Linked DNA regions of Homo sapiens: regions 2 and 3 are each linked to region 1. The links come from fine-mapping of genetic effects on gene expression. A gene starts in region 1. Each other region holds a variant in brackets. All regions are shown on one strand. Distances are between the middles of the regions.

Region 1 (7,364 bases):
TATATCACCAGTGTATGAGTGAAATCTGCTGATTTTTTTTCACTGAATTGATTAGTTGTTTCAACTTTATGTGAATACAGACTGAGAAGCCTTGATGTCACAAAAGACCAGAGCAAGCTTGGTTAGACTATACTTTAAAGATCTATACCATCATAACTAACTCTAATTTGGACCCCTCCAAAATACTGGCGCATGCCTGAATTACCTAGGTAAGGATGTAGAGCTGCTGTCTTGGCTTGAAGACGGAAATTATAGTTCGAAACACTAAGATATACCAGAGTTAGAAGAATGTTTTAGTGGAAAATGTCACATCAAGGACTCCACTGAAGATCATTTCTAAATATATCCAGGTTCACAGCCATGCTGCTTGCATCCATGTATGTCAGATTACCTATCTTTTTGCTACATACCACGATGCAGTATCATACTTGTTAATATTCCTTAAACAGTTTAGGCAAATTATCACAGACATAATATATATTTGGAGTAAATAAATATGGCCATTTTCTCATCAAAATCTGGCTGTTGGTGAAAAAAAAAGAGTTTTGCAGTTAAATTTTTGTTATAAAGTGTCATGTTGGGAAGAATATTCAGAAAAGGGGGACTACCAGTGAACTATTAAGAGTTCGTTCCATGGGAATTCTGTTCTCGATGTAGTTTCCAAAGAGATAATGCGACCTTGGCCTAACACTTTCATTTGACAGAATAAACAGAGGACCTAAAGTTTATGTATTTATTTATTTTTATTTTATTTTTTATTTTTGTGGAGACGGGGGTCTCGCTATATTGCCTGGGCTGGTCTGGAATTCTTGGCCTCAAGCTATCCTCCTGCTTCTACTTCCCTAAATGCTGGGATTATAGGCATGCGCCATAGCACCTGGCCTAGCCCTAAAGTTTAAATGACTTATGAAAGGTCAGGTCATATAATTTGTTGCCAAAACAAAGCTTCCAGAATAGTGTTTTTTCTTGTCCATAATTTTTATGTTTTTATTATTATTTTTTTTTGAGATGGGGTCTTGCTGTGTCACCTAGGCTGGAGTGCAGAGGTGTGATCTCGGCTCACTGCAACCTCTGCCTCCCAGGTTCAAGCGATTCTCCTGCCTCAGCCTCCTGAGTAGCTGGGATTACAGGCACCTGCCACCACACCAGCTAATTTTTGTATTTTTAGTAGAGACAGGGTTTCACCACGTTGGTCAGACTGGTCTCAAACTCCCGACCTCAAGTGATCCTCCTGCCTGAGCCTCCCAAAGTGCTGGGATTCCAGGCGTGAGCCACCGTGCCCGGCCTTGTCCATAATTTTTAAACACAACTTTTCCATTTCAGTTGTGACATATAATGCCTCAATTTTTGTTTTAAAACATGGAAATTGGACACAATGTTATTACTAAAAACTAATCTTTCTCCTTGTTTATTTATTTATTTATTTTATTTTATTTGAGACGGAATCTCGCTATGTCTCCCAGGCTGGAGTGCAGTGACATGATGTCGGCTCACTACAACCTCTGCCTCCCGGGTTCAAGCAATTCTTCGGCCTCAGCCTCCCGGGTAGCTGGGACTACAGGCGCGCACTACTGTGCCTGACTAATTTTTGTATTTTTAGTAGAGACGGGGTTTCACCGTGTTGGCCAGGCTGGTCTCCAACTCCTGACCTCAGGTGATCCATCCGCCTCGGCCTCCCAGAGTGCTGGGATTACAGGCATGAGCCACCACTCCTGACTCTCCTTGTTTACTTTTAAGCAAGAAAGGAAAATTAAATGTAGAACAATTATGATAGACTTGTAAAAGGAATAAACACCCCAGATTTGCAGGCCAATTCTACTCTGAATCCCAAAATACATAGTTTCTTCAACTCTAATGGGTCAGAGAACTATGTGGAAAGTTTTTTCCAGAAAAGATCTTTGATTAAAACACACACACACACACACACGCACACACACACACACACACACACTCATTTTGGGGTAAGAGATTTTTCCTAAATAAGTATAGCCATCTTGTTTCTATCATTTATAATTCAATCAGGTGCAAAGAGAGGACTATATAACCATTTCTCCCTTTAAATGAGAAACTGGGATACAAGTGGTTTGAGGTGGGGAAGAAATGATACATTTTAAAAACTCAAATGACAAGTTCTTCCTGGCTGGAGAGTGAGACAAGAGAAACCACAAAACCCCAGACTGTGCAATCTGTAAAGACAGTGATAAAGTGACTACTTCATAGATGAAGATGGACAACTTGAACTTCCCCTTGAGTTTCACAAGGGAGTCCTGTGTGTGAGAAGGAAGGAACATATTTGAGTGTAATGTGCAGTTGCATTTAGATCTAAGGAAACTTAAAATGAATTTAAGTTTCCTTAATTCAAAATGAATTTTTGAGCAGTTCTCCACGGTAACTTTAATAAGTCTCCATTTCAACTTTCTGTTCTCAATCCCATCTACAGCTCAAACATATGCAGTATCTGCCAGCCCTGTCCATGAATTCCTGAAGTCCCAGCCAAGTGCCTCTCAGCTCAAAAAGCCCCTTGCTTGCCAGGGGTCAGCCATGTCTGGAAGGCTCTGAAAGAGGTCTGCTGGGCAGTAGGACTGCTTCTGTGGATGAGAGGCCTCTTGTTGGACTGGAGAGACCAGGAGCTGTAAGAAACCCAGAAATAAAAAGTCTCAGATGGGGACAACTGCAAAGTACCAGGAGTTCCTCCCTCCTCTCCACCATATCCCACAGTTGGACATCTCCCCGAAAACCCCACCCCAAGTAAAATTTATTTGCCGTCTCACCCTCAAATAAGAATGAGTCAATCATTAAGTAATGCAATTATACAAGCATAGTTGTAAACAACTATATTGCAAGTATGCTGACATGCAAAGATGTGTTTTACCTTTAATTACCAGAAGAAAATAGACAACTTGAGTTTGAGCACCTAACTTGAAGAAGAAATTAGGAAATAATAGTCCCTCCCCACCACATCCATCATTCCCAACCCGTTCTGCCTAAAAATCGTTTACATTGTGGATTTTATTTGTAATTTTTAAAGTCTTATTTTAAATTAGGTCCCAAAGAAAGAAGCTGGCATTTCTTATTCTTTTCAGAGTGGTCTAAGAAAAAAAATAGGAAAGCAAACTCTTTCTTTTTTTCTTTTCTTTTTTTTTTGGAATCAATACCCGAGATAACAGCAGAAGCAAAAATCCACCGGTGCGTCAGCAAGCAGGGCACTCGGCCATTCATCTCCATCCTTCCTTCTGAGCTGTTCTCCAGCAGGCTCCGGCCGCAGCTCCAGGCCACTAGAGCAGATAGATAATGTAGGACAGAATGACCAGGCCTATGATGGCAAAGAACATCAGGATGAAAATATCCAGCATTGTGGATTCCTAGGCCGACCAAGCCCCTGGATTCTGGTGAACCGTGAGCTGTGAGCACGGAGGTTGCAGTCGGTGGAGAGAAATGGCTCCCCTTCACTCCACAGCTCAGCCCTGGTTCTTTCCCCTCCCCCTCCCAGGGGCCTGAGACTGAAGGATGCTGCAGCTCCACCAGCAGCTTCCTGCCCCCCCACCAACCACAGCCAACCAATCACAAAGCCTGGGGGTGGATAGCCAAGGAGATGCCAGATTTAGACCCACAGAACCGCAGAATCAAAGGGGCTCAATTTCTCCCCAGGAACCCAATCCCACCCCTTTGTATCTAAATGGAGCCTGCATGCTCTGGATGTAGGAGGAGATAGGATCCTACCCAGCTCCCCCAAGAGTGAATCCTCCTGACTGCCTTCTTCGCGTTTCCTCTCACACACCTCGGGCAGATTATCTCAGAAAAATCATGGTTGGGTATTGGGTGGGCCATTGGCAACTTCTAAAGGTCACATTATGGGGAGACACAGACAAAAGTTTCGTGTGGATCTCAGTGGGCTTCCCTGAGGGATGAAGCTAACATTTATACATTTCCTACACTGGGCCAGATATCGTACATGTGGTGCAATTTCAACCTCCCTATGAGTCTTTCATAGATGGGGCTCAGAGATGGTCAGAAACTTACCCTAATGGTTCATAGCTTAGATGTGTCAGAGACCAGCCGGGCGCAGTGGCTCATGCCTATAATCCCAGCACTTTGGGAGGCCGAGGCAGGTGGATCACAAGGTCAGGAGTTCAAGACCAGCCTGGCCAAGATGGTGAAACCCTGTCTCTACTAAAAATACAAAAGTTAGCCAGGCTTGGTGGTGCATGCCTGTAATCCCAGCTACTTGGGAGGCTGAGGCAGAGAATTGCTTGAACCCGGGAGGCAGAGCTGAGATCGCGCCACTGCACCCCAGCCTGGGCTACAGAGCAAGATTCTGTCTCAAAAAAAAAATAAAAATAAAAATTAGCCGGGCGTGGTGGCAGGTGCCTGTTATCCCAGCTATTCAAGAGGCTGAGGCTAAAGAATTGCTTGAACCCGGCAGGCAGAGGTCGCAGTGAGCTGAGACCGTGCCATTGCACTCCAGCCTGGGTGACAGAGCGAGACTCCGTCTCAAAAATAAATAAATTAATAAATAAAATAAAAAGTAAAAGGCTGGGTGTGGTGGCTCATGCCTGTAATCCCAACACTTTGGGAGGCTGAGGTAGGTGAATCACCTGAGGTCAGGAGTTCAAGACCAGCCTGACCAACATGGAGAAACTCCAGCTCTACTAAAAATACAAAATTAGCTGGGCATGGTGGCACATGCCTGTAATCCCAGCTACTCAGGAGGCTGAGGCAGGAGAATCGCTTGAACCTGGGAGGTGGAGGTTGCAGTGAGCTGAGATTGTGCCATTGCACTCCAGCCTGGGCAACAAGAGTGAAACTCCGTCTCAAAATAATTAATTAATTAATTAAAAATGTCAGAGACCAGGATTCAAAACTAGGCATGCTGACACCAAAGTCCATATTCTTCCTCTTGCGCCACACTGCTCCCCCTGTTGGTCCGGAAGGCCCCTACACCCCACGTGCACTGCTCAGCTTGCAGTGGACTGCTTTCACATCGATCCACCTACAGGACGAGCACCAGAGACCCCTCCTCCACCCACTCCTTCGTCTCTTTGCAGTCATTACCCACTGTTTTGTTTTCCTTCTTTCTTTTTTTATAGAGACGGGGTCTTGCCATTTTGCCCAGGCTGGTCTCAAACTCCTGGACTCAAGCGATCCTCCCACCTCAGCCTCCCAAAGTGCTGGGATTGCAGGTGTGAACCACCGCACCCGGCCTAGTTTTGTTTTCTTTGGTATCCTCTTCCAAAAGCTCAGCATAGTGTTGTACACAGAGAGGACACTGAAGAATTCCCCAGGGGTATCCCTGAAATTTAAAAAATTCAAGTGGTTTCTTCTGAGGGGGAAAAGAGAATTATTTTATTCTTTTTATTTATTTATTTATTTATTTATTTATTTATTTATTTATTTATTCTTAGACGGAGTCTTGCTCTGTCACCCAGGCTGGAGTGCAGTGGCACGATCTCAGCTCAGTGCAAGCTCTGCCTCCCGGGTTCACGCCATTCTCCTGCCTCAGCCTCCCGAGTAGCTGGGACTACAGGCACCCGCCACCGCGCCCAGCTTATTTTTTGTATTTTTAGTATAGACGGGGTTTCACTGTGTTAGCCAGGATTTTTGTGCCTTTTTATAAGCCTCAATTATTTTCTATTAAATTAAATCATTCCCTAGGACGTCTCTGAGGCCTAGTCTCCTTGGCCCCCACCCCAAATAATATTTTTTTTAAAGGCCTGGGGTTAAGATATATTGGTAACCCCCTCATAATGCAAGACCTCAGGAACTTAGGCCACTGCCAGAAGGAAATCCAGAAACTCCTCCCATTGGCCCATTTCCAGGAGGCAGAGCTTTCTGTGAGCAGGGAGTGGAGACTTGGCAGCAATGTCCCCCAAAGCACTGTTCCATCAAATAGATCTGAAGGTGAATGAAGCCTCCCGGGGAGTGGGGCAGGCCGACATGAGGCAAGCTTTGCCAACTAATTCCCTTCTATTGGGAAAGTATTGGGCTGCCTGCACCCCTGGAGGGGAGCAGGTGTCAGTGCTGTCTCTAATTATACCACCCAGGGCAGCCTTGGATGCTCCCCACATTGCCCCAGCTCAGCTGACTCTGGCCATGTCATTCTCCAGATTACAAATGCTCAGCTCAGGAGAGCCCTCCTCCTCTCCACCCTGCTGTGATTCTGAGGCTGGAGAATTCCTTAGTTCTGAGCCCCAAGAGAGAAATGCCCCTCAAGCAGCTGGACCTGAGGCTGATTGGCAGCACTGAGCAGGGCCAGATTCCCCTCTCTACCACTGTCCTCTTCCCAAGCCCAATGAGCAAGAGGGGAGGCCGCCTGGCCTTCTGGCCAGTCACAGACCCTGGGCACCTGGAGCAAAACATGGAGCCCAGGAGACACACATCTAAGAGCTGCCACAGACACAGGCACGCGGCCTGCCATGGCCGGGTGGCACAGCACCAGACTGTGAGCATCACATGGGGGTCTCAGGCCCCACTCTGCCACTAGCTGTGACTGCCACCAATCTGCTTTGCCTTTCTGGGTTTCAGTGAGCCCCTCTATAAGTAGTTACTTCTCTCACAGGGTTGTGAGGAAGAAGGAAGAAAGGGGATGTGTATTAAAGATTACATTCAGAAGGCACTGTGAATAGTGCTTTGGGTTGCCAGGCCACCTTACAGACAGCTTTATCCAGGTCCCGTCCCACTGTGGAATGCCCTGTCATCTCGTTCCTCAAATGCGTGGAGCTCCTGCTCTCTGCCTGGCAGCGGCAGAGTGCTAGAACTGCTCCCCAGCCAAGCTCATTCATTAATTCAACAGCTCCGCACCGCTCCTGGGCAGGTACCCGGGATTTAGAGATGAATTAGACTCATCACCTGCCCCAAGGGCTCTGGCTAGTGGGGAGACAGATATGTCACTGAGGAAGTGACACAGTAATACGAGACGGAGCTCAGGGAAGCTTCCGGGAGCATCACCAAGTTGGGCAGAGAGGAATGAGCGGGTGGAAAGCCAGAAGTAGGTTGGTGGGGAGTTCTCAGCAAGGAGGAAGTAGGGGCCAAGGGCCTGACAGACAGCAGCAAACTCCCCCTTGGCATCCAGACAAGTCATTCTCTCCCCGAGGGGCAGCAGAGGTCCCAGGAGGGCCACAGGCCAGTGCCCCCAAGCAGACAGGACACACACACACACACACACACAGTGGCACCTTACAGCTAGACACACACACACACAGCAGCACCTTACAGCTAGAGACACACACCCACACACAGACACACACAACAGCAGCTCAGAGCCAGAGAGGAAACCAAGTCCGCAGGTAAAAATTATACTTTTATTTGAGTCACCAGGAGAAAGATTCACTTGTGGTTCAAGTCAAATGTTCAGAATCATAACAGGC
Region 2 (7,364 bases), 70 kb before region 1:
AATAAATAAATAAAATAAAACAAAGTGGTCCTAAGTACCTAAAGTGCTAGAAGAAGCATATGCAATTCTCTCTAGAAGAACCCACCTTTATCTCAGGCCTCAAAAAATTCCCACATATAGTTTTGATAAAAATAACCACAGAATCAAAAATCACAAAACCGAAACAAACTAGGCACCATGAGCAAAAGAAGCAGAAATATAGACAGCAGAATCAGACCTACAAAGACTGTAGATATAGAAATTATCAGAAACATGACATAAAATTACTATTTTAGAGCTTTTAAGAAATAAAAATGAGGCCAGGCATGGTGGCTCACACCTGTAATCCCAACACTTTGGGAGGCCGAGGTGGACAGATCACGAAGTCAAGAGATGGAGACCATCCTGGCCAACATGGTGAAACCCTGTCTCTACTAAAAATACAAAAATTAGTTGGGCATGGTGGTGCATGCCTGTAGTTCCAGCTACTCGGGAGGCTGAGGCAGGAGAATCGCTTAATCCCGGGACTGCGGAGGTTGCAGTGAACCCAGATGGTGCCACCGCACTCCAGCCTGGGTGACAGAGCAAGACTCTGTCTCAAAAAAAAAAAAAGAAAAAGAAAAAGAAAGACAGACAAATGGAATTAATAATAAAAGAATATACAAATGACCAAGCAGTTTTTTTTAAAAAAAATACAATTCTGGAGATGAAAAATATAGTAATAAAAATTTTAAATTCATTGGACAGATTTAATAGCAGGTTAGACACAACTGAAAAGAGAAGGCAGTTCAGAGGAAGAAGGGGTGAAAAAAAGCAGAGAAAACAGAGTGAAAGAAATGATGCAGATGACAGCACAGTGAGAAAAATAAATGGAAAATGAGCCGGGCACTGTATCTGTAATCTCACTGCTGGGATTATGGGCTCACACCTGTAATCCCAGCACTTTGGGAGGCCAAGGCAGGAGGATTGCTTGAGGCCAGGAGTTTGAGACCAGCCTAGGCAACATAGTGAGACCTAGTGTCTGCAAAAACACAAAAATTAGCCAGGTGTCGTGGTGCATGCCTGTAGTCCCAGCTACTCAGGAGGCTGAGGCAGGAGGATTGCTTGAGGCCTGGAGGTGGAGGTTGCAGTGAGTTGTGATTGCACCACTGCACTACAGCCTAGGTAACAGAGCAAGGCCTTGTCAAAAAAAAAGAAAAAGAAAGGGGAGGGCAGGGGAAGGGAGGGGAGAAGGAAGGGAGAAAGAGAGAGAGGAAGGGAAAGAAAGAGAGAGAGGAAGGGAAAGAAAGAAAATAAATGGAAAATAAGATACCCAGATTCAAGAACCTCAGTAACTTCATAACAGAAATAAAAGGAAATCCACATTTCAACACATTATAATAAAATTGCAGAGCACTGAAGACAGAGACTAGATCTTAGAAACAGACAAAAGAGGCTGGGCGCAGTGGCTTATACCTGTAATCCCAACACTTTGGGAGGCCGAGGCGGGTAGATTGCTTGAGGTCAGGCGTTCAAGACCAGCCTAGACAACATGGCAAAACCCCATCTCTACTAAAAATACAAAAAATTAGCTGAGCGTGGTGGCAGGCGCCTGTAATCCCAGCTACTTGGGAGGCTGAAGCAGAATTGCTTGAACCCAGGAGGTGGAGGTTGCAGTGAGCTGAGATTCATGCCATTGCACTCCAGCCTGGGCAACAAGAGCGAAACTCCATCTCAAAAAAAAAAAAAAAAAGAAAAGAAAAGAAACAGACAAAAGAGTCAGAAAACTTCAGCCTGAAACAATTTGATTGACAGCTGATTTCTCAAGAGCAACAATAAAAGTAAGATGATGATGGAATAATACCTTCAATGTGCTGAGGAAATTACCATCAACCTAGAACTCTATACCCACTGAAAATATCTATAAAGAACAAAGGAGAAGAAGGAGGAAGAGGAGGAGAGGAGGAGGAGGAATATCAAACAAATAGAACCTAAAATCATTTGCTACCAAAGACCCTTTTCTTAGGAAATTCTTAGGAAACGACAGATAAACAGATAGATGCCAGGCACAGTGGCTCACATCAATTACCTCAGCCTGAAGTAACTACTTCAGGCAGAAGGAACGTAACCTCAGATGGAAGGAATGAGATAAAGGAAGGAGTGAATCACATGTGAACTCTGTATTTTATCTGATCTGCTACTGACTACATAAAACTACAACAAAATCTACAGCTAACATCTAAAAAGCTAACAAGAGGGTGTCCACTGCCATCCGGACCCCCAGGGCCACAGGGTAGGCCCAGCCGTGGCTTGGTACTCCCTGTGGGCCTCAACAAGGGTCATAAGGTGACCAAGAGGGAGAGCAAGACAAAGCACAGCCCCCTGGCAGGCATGGCGCCAAGCACACCAGGTTCTTGTGGGGCGTGATCTGAGAAGCGTGGGCTTCACCTGAAACAAGCCAGCAACTTGCCCGCGGAGCTGTTCCAAATATCCACGGGAGATCTGGCCCTCACATTCATCAAGAAAAGGGTGGGGACATACATCCTCAGCAAGAGGGAGTGGGAAGGACTGAGCAGGGCCCCAGTCTTCATTAGGAAAGCAGCTGCCACAAGGACTGAGCTCCTCCTCTGTCTGTGCATAATGAAACCTTGATGGAATAAACCAAGACAGAATAAAATACACAGCCCGTAGCATAGAAGTCAGAAGGTGAGCGATTGGTGTTCAAGTGTTCTAAGGCCATTGTGGTGTATGGGAGAAGGTAAAAGGATAAAGATTTACTGTGGATTTTGGTAAGTCAAGCATGCACAATAAATTTTTAGGTCAGTCACTAAAAGATGAGAAATAGAATATTTAGCTTCCAAACTAGTAGAGGGGGAAAAATAAGAAAAAAATGAAGTGATGAAAAGTAATTGATCAAAAAGAAGAGAGAAGAAAAAAGTAAGCATAAAAAGGAAGAATCAAATAGACAATAAAAATATGTGTGTGTTTATATATATATATACACATACATAAACTTTCAAATGGTTTCAAACACACACACACACACACACACACACACACACACACACACTTTCAAATGGTTTAAATATATATATGGCCAGCTGAGTGGCTCATGCCTGTAATCCCAGCACTTTCGGAGGCTGAGGTGGGTGGATCACCTGAGGTCAGGAGTTTGAGACCAGCCTGGCCAACACGGTGAAACCCCGTCTCTACTAAAAATACAAAAATTAGCTGGGTGTGGTGGCAGGTGCCCATAATCCCAGCTACTCAGGAGGCCGAGGCAGGAGAATCGCTTGAACCCAGGAGGCGGAGGTTGCAGTGAGCCGAGATCATGCCATTGCACTCCAACCTGGGTGACAAGGCAAGACTCCATCTCCATATAGATATATAATGTATATATGTATGTGTGTATATATAAAAGATAGATGATTGATTGACAGATAAACAGGCAGATGCCAGGCATGGTGGCTGACATCAGTTGCCTCAGCCTTTTGAAAGGCTGAGATGGGAGTGATTGCTTCAGGCCAGGAGTTTGAAGCCAGCCTGGATAATAGTGAAACCCTGTCTCTACAAAATATTTTAAAATTAGCTAGGCACAGTGTCATGCACCTGTAGTCCCAGCTACTCCGGAGGCTGAGGTGGGAGGATCACTCCTTGAACCCAGGAGTTTGAGGCTGCCGTGAGTTATGATTTCACCACTGTACTCCAGCCTGGGCAACAG[AGT/T]GAGTCTTTGTCTCTAAAATTAAAAAAAAAAAAGTAAAGGTAAATAGACAAAGCAAAAATGATAAAATGTTAACAATTGTTGTAACTAGGTATTTGTGTGCTGATTGTACTGTTCTTTCACCTTTCATATACACTGACAATTTTTTGTAATGAAAAGTTATAGCTGGGTGCATTGGCTCATGCCTATAATACTAGCATTTTGGGAGGCTGAGGTGGGAGGATTGCTTGAGGCCAGGAGTTCAAGACCAGCCTGGTCAACACAGTGAGACACTGAATCTAAAAAAAAAGTTTAAAAAGTAAAGTAGCCGGGTGTAGTGGCTCACGCCTGTAATCTTAGCACTTTGGGAGGCCGAGGCAGGTGGATCACCTGAAGTCAGGAGTTCGAGACCAGCCTGGACAACATGTTGAAACCCCGTCTCTACTAAAAAATACAAAAATTAGCCAGGCGTGGTGGCACACGCCTGTAATCCCAGCTGCCCGGGAGGCTGAGGCAGGAGAATCGCTTGAATCTGGCAGGCAGCGGTTGCAGTGAGCCAAGATCGCACCATTGCACTCCAGCCTGGACGACAAGAGTGAGACTCCGTCTCGAAAAAAAAAAAAAGAGAGAGAGATACTTTATAATAGGATCAAATATATGAAGTACAGAGTAATAAATCAAACAAAAGATGTGCCAGAGCTCTCTAAGGAAAAAATAATAAAGCTTTATTAAAAGATTTAAAGAATACTAAAATAAATAGAGCACTGTGTTCATGCAATGCAAGATACACATTTATAAAAATGTCAGTTCTCCTTAAATTGATCTACAGATTCAATGCAATCTCAGTCAAAATCCCAACAGATTTTGTGAAGAATTTGACAAACTTATTCTAAAATGTAAATGAAAGTACAAAAGACCAGGAATAGCCAAGACAAAATAAAAGGACTTCCTTTCCAGATCTAGCCTCTTTAACAGTCAACAATGATTACGGAAGTGTGATATTGGAGCAAGGTCAGAAAAGTAGAGCACTGAAAACAATAGAAAGCCCAGAAATACACACCTGCCTCCATGCCACTTGACATATAACAGAGGGGGGCTTGTGGTTAGATAAGTGCAATAAATAGCACTAGGACATTGAGGATCTATACAGAAAAAAACAAAACGAACTCTACTTTTCACCACATACAAAATTCAGTTCCAGGTGAATCAGGAATCCAAATATGAAAAGTGAAAAATAACATAAAGCTTTTAGAAGATAATAAAAGAGAATATTTTCATGACCTCAGAATAGTGGAGGATTTCTTTTTCTTTCTTTCTTTTCTTTCTTTTTTTTTTTTTAGACATCGTCTTGCTTTGTCGCCCAGGCTAGAGTGTGGAGCGTAGTGATGCAATCTCGGCTCACTGCATCCTCCACCTCCCAGGTTCAAGCGATTCTCCTACCTCAGCCTCCTGAGTAGTTGGGATTACAGCTATGTGCCACCATGCCCGGCTAATTTTTGTATTTTTAGTAGAGACGGGGTTTCACCTTGGCCAGGCTGGTCTTGAACTCCTGACCTCCAGTGATCTGCCCACCTCAGTCTGCCAACGTGCAGGGATTACAGGTGTGAGCCACCACGCCCCACCAGAATAGTGGAGGATTTCTTAAACAGGAGGCAGAAAGGCAATGTTGCTCTCCAGGGCACTTTCGGCAATGTCTGGAGACATTTTTGGTTATCATAATTTGGGCAGAAGGGTGCTATTGGTATCTAATGGACAGAGGCCAGGGATGCTGGTAAACCTCCTACAATATACAGGACAGCCCCCAACACACACACACGCGCACACACACACACACACACACACAGAGTCACACACACAAAAAAAACAAGGAATTTTCCAGCCCAAAATGTCAATAGTGCCAAGATTGAGACATTCTACTACGTTCATACTAAAGAACATCTGTTCATGAAAAGATACCATTAAGAGACTAAAAATTATCTAGGATACAGAAAGAAGCACAATCAATAAAAAGACAACACAATGGGAAAATGGGAAGACATGGGTATATCCTTCAGAAAAAAGGAAATCCAAAGACTAACAAACCAAACATACAAAAAAGATGCCCAACCTAAGTAGTAATCAGAGAAATATAAATTAAAAATCATTGGCCAGGTACAGTGGCTCATGCCTGTAATCCCAACATTTTGGGAGGCTGAGGTGGGAGGATTGCTTGAGGCCAGGAGTTGGAGACCAGCTTGGGTAATGTAGGGAGACCACTGTCTCTACCAAAAAGAATTAGGCAGCCATGGCAGTGTGCATCTGTAGTCCCAGCTCCTCAGGAGGCTGAGGCAGAAGGATCACTTGAGCCCAGGAGTTCAAGGTTACAGTGAGTTATGAAAGTAACACTGCACTCCAACATCGGTGACAGCAACTCTAAATAATAATAATAATAATGAGATACAATTTACAACTATGGGACAGGCGCGGTGGCACACGCCTGTAATCTCAGCACTTTGGGAGGCCGAGTGGGCGGATCACCTGAGGTCAGGAGTTTGGGACCAGCCTGGCCAACATGGTGAAACCCCATCTCTACTAAAAATACAAAAATTAGCCGGGTGTGGTGGCGGGCACCTGTAATCCCAGCTACTCAGGAGGCTGAGGCAGGAGAATTGCTTGAACCTGGGAGGCAGAGGTTGCAGTGAGCCGAGATCGCGCCATTGCACTCCAGCCTGGGCGACAGAGCAAGACGCAGTCTCAAAAAAAAAAAAAAGAACAATTTACAACTATCAGATTGGCAAAAAATAAAGTCTTACTACTAAATGTTAGGCAAAGGTATGGAACAACAGGAAATATATACTGGAATGAGAGTATAAATTGTTACAACCACGTTGATAAACAGTTTGTCAGTTGAAGATGTTCAGTTTCTAAGACCCAGCAATTCTGTTTTTAGCTACACACCCCAGATAAATGCTTCTGCACTTGCACCAGGAGATCTTTTAAAAATATATACATTAAAGCATTATTTATAATAACAAAATAATGTAAACAACTCAGACATTCCTCAATAGTAGAATGGATAAATCATGGTACATTCATTTATTGGAATGCCATATATCAGGAACAATTAGTAAGTTTTAGCTACATATATCGATATGAAAGACCCTCCATATTCTCACACTGCTGTAAAGAACTACCTGAGGCCAGGCGAGGTGGCTCATGCCTGCAATCCCAGCACTTTGGGAGGCCGAGGCAGATGGATCACCTGAGGCCAGGAGTTCGTGACCAGCCTGACCAACATGGTGAAACCCCGTCTCTACTGAAAATACAAAATTAGCCAGGCATGGTGGTGCATGCCTATAATTCCAGCTACTCAGGAGGCTAAGGCAAGAGAATCGCTTGAACCCAGGAGGCGGAGGTTGCAGTGAGGTGAGATTGCACCACTGCACTCCAGCCTGGGCAACAAGAGCAAAACTCCGTCTCAAAAAAAAAAAAAAAAAAAAAAAAAGAACTACCTGAGACTGGATAATGTATTTTTAAAAAGAGGTTTAAGTGACTCACAGTTCCACAGGCTATATAGGAAGCATGGCTGGGAGGCCTAAGGAAACTTACAGTCATGGCAGAAGGCCAAGGGGAAGCAACCACCTCTTACTGCAGCGGAGCAGGAGAGAGAGAGCAAGCGGGGAGGTGCCACACGCTTTTAAACCATCAGATCTTGTGAGAACTCACT
Region 3 (7,364 bases), 21 kb after region 1:
ATGGACACATGGGTATTCCCATAAAGGGCTGGGGAAACTGATCTTGCTTCTTAAAAAGTCATTACACATGGATAAGTGTATCTAAAGTTACGGCTGGCTGACCCGACGGCTGGAGGAGTAGCTGCCTGAACCCAGGACACCCTTCCTGGGTGGCTCTATCAATGTTAACAACCTCTGCAGCTGTACAGCTCTTCACACAGCTTGACCAAGCTCTTCATACCCTGACAATCATTGCCCTAAAAAATGGGCCGGACACGCACACTTTCATTCCCATCTTCCAGAAGAGGAACATGAGGCTCAGAAATTAAATGACTTCCCGAGGCAGAGCTTTCATTGCTCAGTAACAGCCAAGGCTGGTGACACAAGGACAAAATCACAGCTAGACAGGCCCTTTCCTGAGAACAGGTGTGGAGCAGGGTGACCACACGCCCAAGTCCCAGTTCATGTCTGCTGCTCAGGGATAAATTTCAATGCACCCCTTTTCACTCTCAACAAGAATGATAATCAGAAAGTCACCCTAACTCGAGAGAGAGGGACACCAGGCATGCAACTCAGGACAGGCGGCACAGAGCGGCTAAATGGGCTGAGAAAAAGTGAGGCTCAGCTCCTTCCAGCCTGGGCCCACTTGGATAAAATTTCCAAACCCTCAGCTTCCTCTCCTTCCCCTCGCCAGCAAATGAGGAAATTGTGTTATTACTTTCCTGACCCACCTACTGGTTTGTTAAGCAAATAGGCACATGAGGGGGATGTTAGCACATTCAGAAGGCAAGGAAACATTTCCCAGCTTCCAAGGGCCTGGCTCATCCCTGCTCCAAGCTCTGCAAAGTTCTGGCCTTCAGAGAGCCCTGAGTGAGGAGCGCCCTAAGCCCAGACATGTCAGCACAGCCCCCAGCCTGGAAGCTGTCCTGGGCCTCTGTGGACACAGGCCACACTCTACCTGTGCCCATGAGGTCCAAGTACATGTGGGTTCAGGGGTCCAGGCCTAAGGACCCTCCCGACTCAGCCAGGACCCTACTAGCTGGGACTCCAGGATGACAAGTTAGGGTCCATGACAAAGCTCTGCTAGCTGATGTTCTGTTTTCTGACCCCCCTGCTCTCCCAACTGTGGTGGAAAATAAAAGTCTGACTCTCCATACGGTGCTCCTCACATGATTATACATCACAGTGAACGAGGGAACAGCAGGCTCTGGGTGGAATCATCAGCTCACCAGCTAGGGTCTTTTTTTGGGTGCCCTTACATGCATTACTCATTTCCTTTTCTTTTTTAACTTTATTTATTTATTTATTTATTTATTTTGAGACAGTCTTGCTCTGTCGCCCAGGATGGAGTGCAGTGGTGCGATCTCAGCTCACTGCAACCTCCACCTTCCAAGTTCAACCAATTCTCCTGCTTCTGTCTCCCAAGTAGCTGAGACTACAGGGGTGCACCACCATGCCCAGCTATTTTTTTCTATTTTTAGTGGACGCGGGGGTTTGCCATGTTGGTCAGGCTGATCTCAAACTCCTGGCCTCAAATCATCCACCTGCCTCAGCCTGCCAAAGTGCTGGGATTACAGGCCTGAGCCACCGCGCCTGGCCTCATTTCCTTTCCTCAGCCAGCCCGAGAATACTGCCATTTTACAGATAGGGAAACCAAGGCTCAAGATGTGGGCAAACAGTGGGTTAAGTCAGAATCCAGTTCTAACATCAGAGCCTCAGTTCTCAACCACCATGCAATACTGCTCCCCATCAGAGACTCACAATATTTTATTTATTTATTTTTTAGAGACAGGGTCTCGCTCTGTCACCAAGGCTGGAGTGCGGTGGCGTGATCATGGCTCACTGCAGCCTCAAACTCCTGGGCTCAAGCAATCTTACCACCTCAGCCGCTCGAGTAGCTGGGACTACAGGTGGATGCCACCATGCACGGCTAATTTTCTTTCTTTTTTTTGTAGAGATGGTATCTTGCTATGTTGCCCAGGCAAGTCTTAAACTCCTGGCCTCAAGCAATCCTCCCACCACAGCCTCCCAAACTGTTAGGATACAGGCGTGAGCCCACCATGCCCCAGTATTTTATTTTTAAAACAAACAAAAGTCTGTACTCAACTTCATTAGTAATCACAGAAATGCAATCTAAAACCATCGGCTATCACACTCTACACGATCAAAATGCTAAAGTGAACATATCTGAGCACATGGAGCAAATGAAACTCATCTCTGCTGGTGGGAGGGTAAATCAGTGCAGCCACTTGGAAAATAGTTCCGCATTATCTCGTAAAGTTGAAGGAGCACACTTTTTTTTTTTTTTTTTTTTGAGATGGAGTCTCACTCTGTCGCCCAGGCTGGAATGCAGTGGTGCGATCTCAACTCACTGCATCCTCTGCCTCCCAGGTTCAGTGATTCTCCTGCCTCAGCCTCCAGAGCAGCTGGGATTGCGCCACCGAGTGCGCCACCACACCCGGCTAATTTTTTGTATTTTTAGTTGAGACGGGGTTTCACTGTGTTAGCCAGGATGGTCTTGATCTCTTGACCTCATGATCCACCCACTTCGGTCTCCCAAAGTGCTGGGATTACAGGTGTGAACCACCACGGCCCGGCCCAAGGAGCACACATTCTAAGATGCAGCAGTTCCAATGTACATAGACCTCAGGAGATATGTACAAAAATGTCCATAGCAACTGGAAACAGTACAAATGTCCACCAGCAACAGAATCAATAAAATGTGGTATAAACAAACAATGGAATACTATATAGCAATGAAAAAGGATGTACTACCGCTACACACAAACATATGGATGAATCTTTAAACCCAATGGTGTGTAAGAGAAGCAAGATACACAAAATTACTCTGTGTTCAAAATCAGGAAAAGCAAAACTATAGTGTTTAAGAATACATAATTACATACTAAAATTATAATGAAAAATACATGCTTTCAAAATCAAACTAGAGGATTGTCCAACAAACCTGCCTTCAGAGTATTTTACTCTGGGGACAAAACTTTGTTTGACTATTTACTATTGATTAGGCCCAGACTCTAAAGACTGAAGCTCATTACAGAGTATAAAATGCTCATTATTTCTGGCCAACTGAGATGCAAAGCATTTCTGCCTGCAGCAAAGATATCTTCAAAGTTTATGGTTTTATTTTCCTGTAGGACAATAGCCAATGTGTAACTAATGGTAGGCCCTTAACCATTTCTGTAGCTAAATGTATCCAGTACTCTCTTTTTTCCTTTTTTTTTTTTTATTTTTGAGACGGAGTCTTGCTCTGTTGCCCAGGCTGGAGTGCAGTGGTGTAGTCTCAGCTCACTGCAACCTCCACTTCCCGGGTTCAAGCAATTGTCCTGCCTCAGCTTCCCAAGTAACTGGGACTACAGGTGTGCACCACCACACCTGGCTAATTTTTGTATTTTTAGTAGAGACAGGGTTTCACCATGCTGGCCAGGCTGGTCTTGAACTCCAGACCTCAGGTGATCTGCCCGCTTCGGCCTCCCAAAGTGCTGGGGTTACAGATATGAGCCACCTCGCCCGGCCCCAGCACTTTCTTTCACAGACTAGCATTTACCTCTGCCTCTCATATTCCCCAGTTTTAATCTCTAGCTGGTTCCCTCATAATTAAATAAAGATATGATAAGTACTTACTACATGGGAGTTATATTTTTAACACTGTGAACACTGGGCTCTTGACAGGCATACAGTAATACAATGTATGGTATACCTGCCTGGTGAAACAGGTGTTTATTGTATATGTTACTATGTGTCATATTTCACACATAAAAAAAGTTTTAAGGACACAAAATTGTATACAGAAAATCAATATGTAAGTAAATAAAAGAAGAGGCTCCAGTAAAGTGACTAAAGTTTTCCATACTTGAACACTGCTAGAGCTCATGACAAAAGGCCAGGATTCCTAACATGTAACCTTTATCCCATAGCAT[G/C]GACCCATCAAAAGGCAACTCTTCAAATGCCTTTAATGATGACACAACTACTCACCATAGATGTGTAATATACTGGCCCCTTTCCTCACTTCCACACATTCTCAGTACTAGACAATGGCCAAACTTTTCTGCCAAACTTCACTTTATGACCCTTCTCCGGCAACAGTGTAGAAAGCAGACAAGTGTGCCTTTAAAGTATTGATAACATTGACAACATAACTGGGTGTGATGGCGTGTGCCTGTAATCCCAGCAACCTGGGAGTCTTAGGCCAGGGTTCACTTAAACCCAGGAGTTCAAGGCTGCAGTGAGCTGTGATCACGTGACTACACTCCAGCCTGGGCAGCATAGCAAGACCCTCTCTCTACAAAAAAAATAACAATTAGCTGGGCATGGTGCTATATGCCTGTAGTACCAGCTACTCAGGAGGTTGACGGGAGAGGACCACTTGTGCCCAAGAGTTCGAGGCTGCAGTGACCTATGATCGTGCCACTGTACTCCAGCCTGGGCAATCTTGTCTCAAAAATAATAATGATGATAATAAGAGTGATATCATTTATCCCATGCCAAGCACTTGGCATGTTCCTTGCAACCACCTGTCAAAGTAGGGCCTACTGTCCCATTTTTACAAATGAGGAAACTGAGGCTCAAAGAGCCCTGCCTGGCCCCAGAATGACAGAAGCTAGGATCTGGGCCCTTACCATCTCTTCCTACCTCACTGTCTCACCACTTAGCAAGACTGAAGACAGACTGCACTTATCCAAAGCAGACACCCCAGAGGAGATCAGACACTTGTTTTTAAAATGCTCTGGCTGGTAAAAAGCCCTAGTCTGCAGCATATCCCTCCAAGGAAGCATATCCTCATTCTTTTGTAAGATGGCCTGACCTTTAGAAATAACTGGAGTCAGCTGGGCACAGTGGCTCACACCTGTAATCCCAGCACCTTGGGAGGCCAAGGCAGGTGGATCACCTGAGGTCAGGAGTTCGAGACCAGCCGAGCCAATATGGCAAAACCCTGTGTCTACTAAAAATACAAAAATTAGCCAGGCGTGGTGGCATGTGCCTATAGTCCTAGCTACTCAGAAGGCTGAGGCAGAAGAATCGCTTCAACCCGGGAGGCAGAGGTTGCAGTGAGCCAAGATCACGCCACTGCACTCCAGCCTGGGCGACAGAGCGAGACTCTATCTCAAAAATAAAATAAAACTAAAATTAAAAATAAATAAATAAAGTAACTGGAGTCATTTGGTGCTAATCTGGGAAGCAAAGCAACAAGCTACATACAGGAACAGGAATGCTATTTTGGATACAAAACAAAAGGTGTGGCTCTAAACACCCTATTTTCCAAAACACTTCAGGAGGTTGGGACAACTTAGCAATGGTTTTATGTGTGGTTTAAAGCTCCCAGGCGCAGTGGCTCATGCCTGTAGTAGTCCCAGAACTTTGGGAGGCCGAGGTGGGCGGATCACTTAAGTCCAGGAGTTTAAGACAACATAGTGAGACCCTGTCTCTGATTAAAAAAAAAAAAAAAAAAAAAAAGCTCCCCTGGGAGGCCAGGTGAGGTGGCTCACCCCTATAATCCCAGCACTTTAGGAGGCTGAGGCGGGAGGATAACTTGAATCCAGGAGTTTGAGACCAGCCTGGGCAACATAGCAAGATAGTGTCTCTGCAAAAAAAAGAAAAATTAGCTGGGCATGGTGGTGCACACCTGTGGTCCCAGCTACTCGGAGTCTGAGGTGGGAGAATGGCTTGATCCCAGAAGATTCAGGCTGCACTGAGCCGTGAACACACCACCGCACTCCAGCCCGGATGACGGAGCGAAACCCTGTCTCAAAAATAAAAATAGGCTGGGCTCGGTGTCTCACGCCTGTAATCCCAGCACTTTGGGAGGCCGAGGCGGGTGGATCACAAGGTCAGGAGATCAAGATCATCCTGGCTAACACGGCGAAACCCCATCTCTACTAAAAATACAAAAACTATTAGCCGGGCGTGGTGGCGGGCGCCTGTAGTCCCAGCTACTCACGAGGCTGAGGCAGCAGAATGGCGTGAACCCGGGAGGCGGAGGTTGCAGTGAGCCGAGATTGCGCCACTGCACTCCAGCCTGGGTGATAAACCAAGGCTCCGTCTCAAAAAAATAAAAATAAAAATAAAGCTCCCCTGGGGTTCTGAGGTACAGCCTGATCTGGCACCCTCTGACTTAGGGGTTGGTGAAGCTTTTTCAGACTTTTAGGTGGTGGCTCTCAAACTTCAGAGAGCACCACAGAAACCCAGGGAATGTGTCTAACATGCTGATTCCTGGGCCCCACTCCCAGAGACGCTGATTCTGGCAGCCAGGGGAGAAGGCCTGTGAGTCTGCATTTTCAGTCAACCCTACAGGTGACTGTGCTACAGCTGTCTGGAGGCCCATATCCGACAGACTGTAATTGCTTTCATTAAAACCAAGAGTCTCCAGGCTTTGCATTCACACCCTACAGGTCTCTGCTAAAGCTGCAAAAGCAGCTAGCAGGTCGGGGTCGATCCCTTCCCCCAGCTCCTGCAGAGGACCATTAGCTCACTGCAGCACCGCGAGAAGGGTAAAAGATGGTTATCTCCTGAGATGCGGATGGCTTGGCCAGGGTGGTGAGTTTTGTCACTAGGATATTAACACCTCTAACTGGGGGAGGGAAGAAGAGGAGGTGGCTTAGGCTGAGTGTGGAGTGTTCTGGAAGCCTTCCAGAAAGGGAAGCAGGGATGACTGGGCTTGTCTCCCCTCCTCCAAAACCCACAGGGTGAAGCAATGAGTGAACAGCCAGGGAGCTGGGGTTGCACATTGGGAGCAAGTGTCACTGATAAAAGACTAGAGCCTCTACATGAAAAGCCGCAGAGGCTGAAGAGCCGACATTCCAGTTCTGTGAACCATTCCGGGTTTTCCCCATAATCTAAGACCATCTTCCCCCTCCCCCACTTTCCAAGCCGAGAGCTCTGAAACACAGACCTAAGGGTCTTACCCTTTGCAGGGTCTGAGCCAAAGGGAAGCTCCAGGGCGTGAGGCCAGGCCCTAGCATATAAAGAGTCAACTGTGACAGGCCTCTGGAAGTTGGAGGGGAAGGAGGATTAGAGTGCCCGCCCTAGGCATCCCCTGCTAGCCAAAGGGAAGCATGCCATTTCCTCAGGCCACCAACTTCAAACTGCAGGTCAACAGTCCAGTTGCAAAACCCATTCACAGTAAGTCTGCAACCAGCATCTTTTTGGTTTTTTTTTGAGATGGAGTCTTGCTCTGTCGCCAGGCTGGAGTGCAGTGGCCCGATCTCGACTCACTGCAACCTCTGCCTCCCGAGTTCAAGCGGTTCTTCTGTCTCAGCCTCCCAAGTAGCTGGGATTACAGGCACACGCCACCACGCCCAGCTAATTTTTGTATTTTTAGTAGAGATGGGGTTTCACCATGTTGGCCAGGATGGTCTCGATCTCTTGAC

Direction of the effects. Alleles are on the strand shown, and positions count from the first base shown. SD is a standard deviation of normalised expression in the study named. Not every link is listed here.
In carriers of allele AGT in region 2, the expression in transverse colon of the gene that starts at base 3,433 in region 1 tends to be lower than with T alone (small effect, 0.25 SD a copy in GTEx).

The links. PIP is the estimated chance that this variant, and not a neighbour inherited with it, causes the effect.
Region 2: its variant is the best candidate, but not a certain one, in a credible set for the expression of LASP1NB in transverse colon (GTEx, PIP 0.64).
Region 3: its variant is the best candidate, but not a certain one, in a credible set for the expression of LASP1NB in whole blood (TOPMed, PIP 0.51).

What each region holds. Positions count from the first base shown.
Region 1 is chr17:38,921,683-38,929,046 of GRCh38, reverse strand. It overlaps LASP1NB (LASP1 neighbor), which reads right to left and starts at 3,433. Exons shown (of 2, transcript NM_001414697.1): 1 at 3,156-3,433; 2 at 1-2,630. The coding sequence starts at 3,353. The coding sequence ends at 3,276. It overlaps LASP1 (LIM and SH3 protein 1), which reads right to left. Exons shown (of 7, transcript NM_006148.4): 7 at 7,277-7,364. RefSeq lists an enhancer at 6,438-7,048.
Region 2 is chr17:38,991,535-38,998,898 of GRCh38, reverse strand. No RefSeq gene overlaps it. Among named protein-coding and RNA genes, the nearest start is that of FBXO47, 28 kb to the right of the region's middle. The variant AGT/T (reference allele first, on the strand shown) is at 3,680.
Region 3 is chr17:38,900,460-38,907,823 of GRCh38, reverse strand. All of the region lies in intron 4 of LASP1 (LIM and SH3 protein 1), which reads right to left. Among named protein-coding and RNA genes, the nearest start is that of MIR6779, 11 kb to the left of the region's middle. RefSeq lists an enhancer at 5,835-6,460. The variant G/C (reference allele first, on the strand shown) is at 3,918.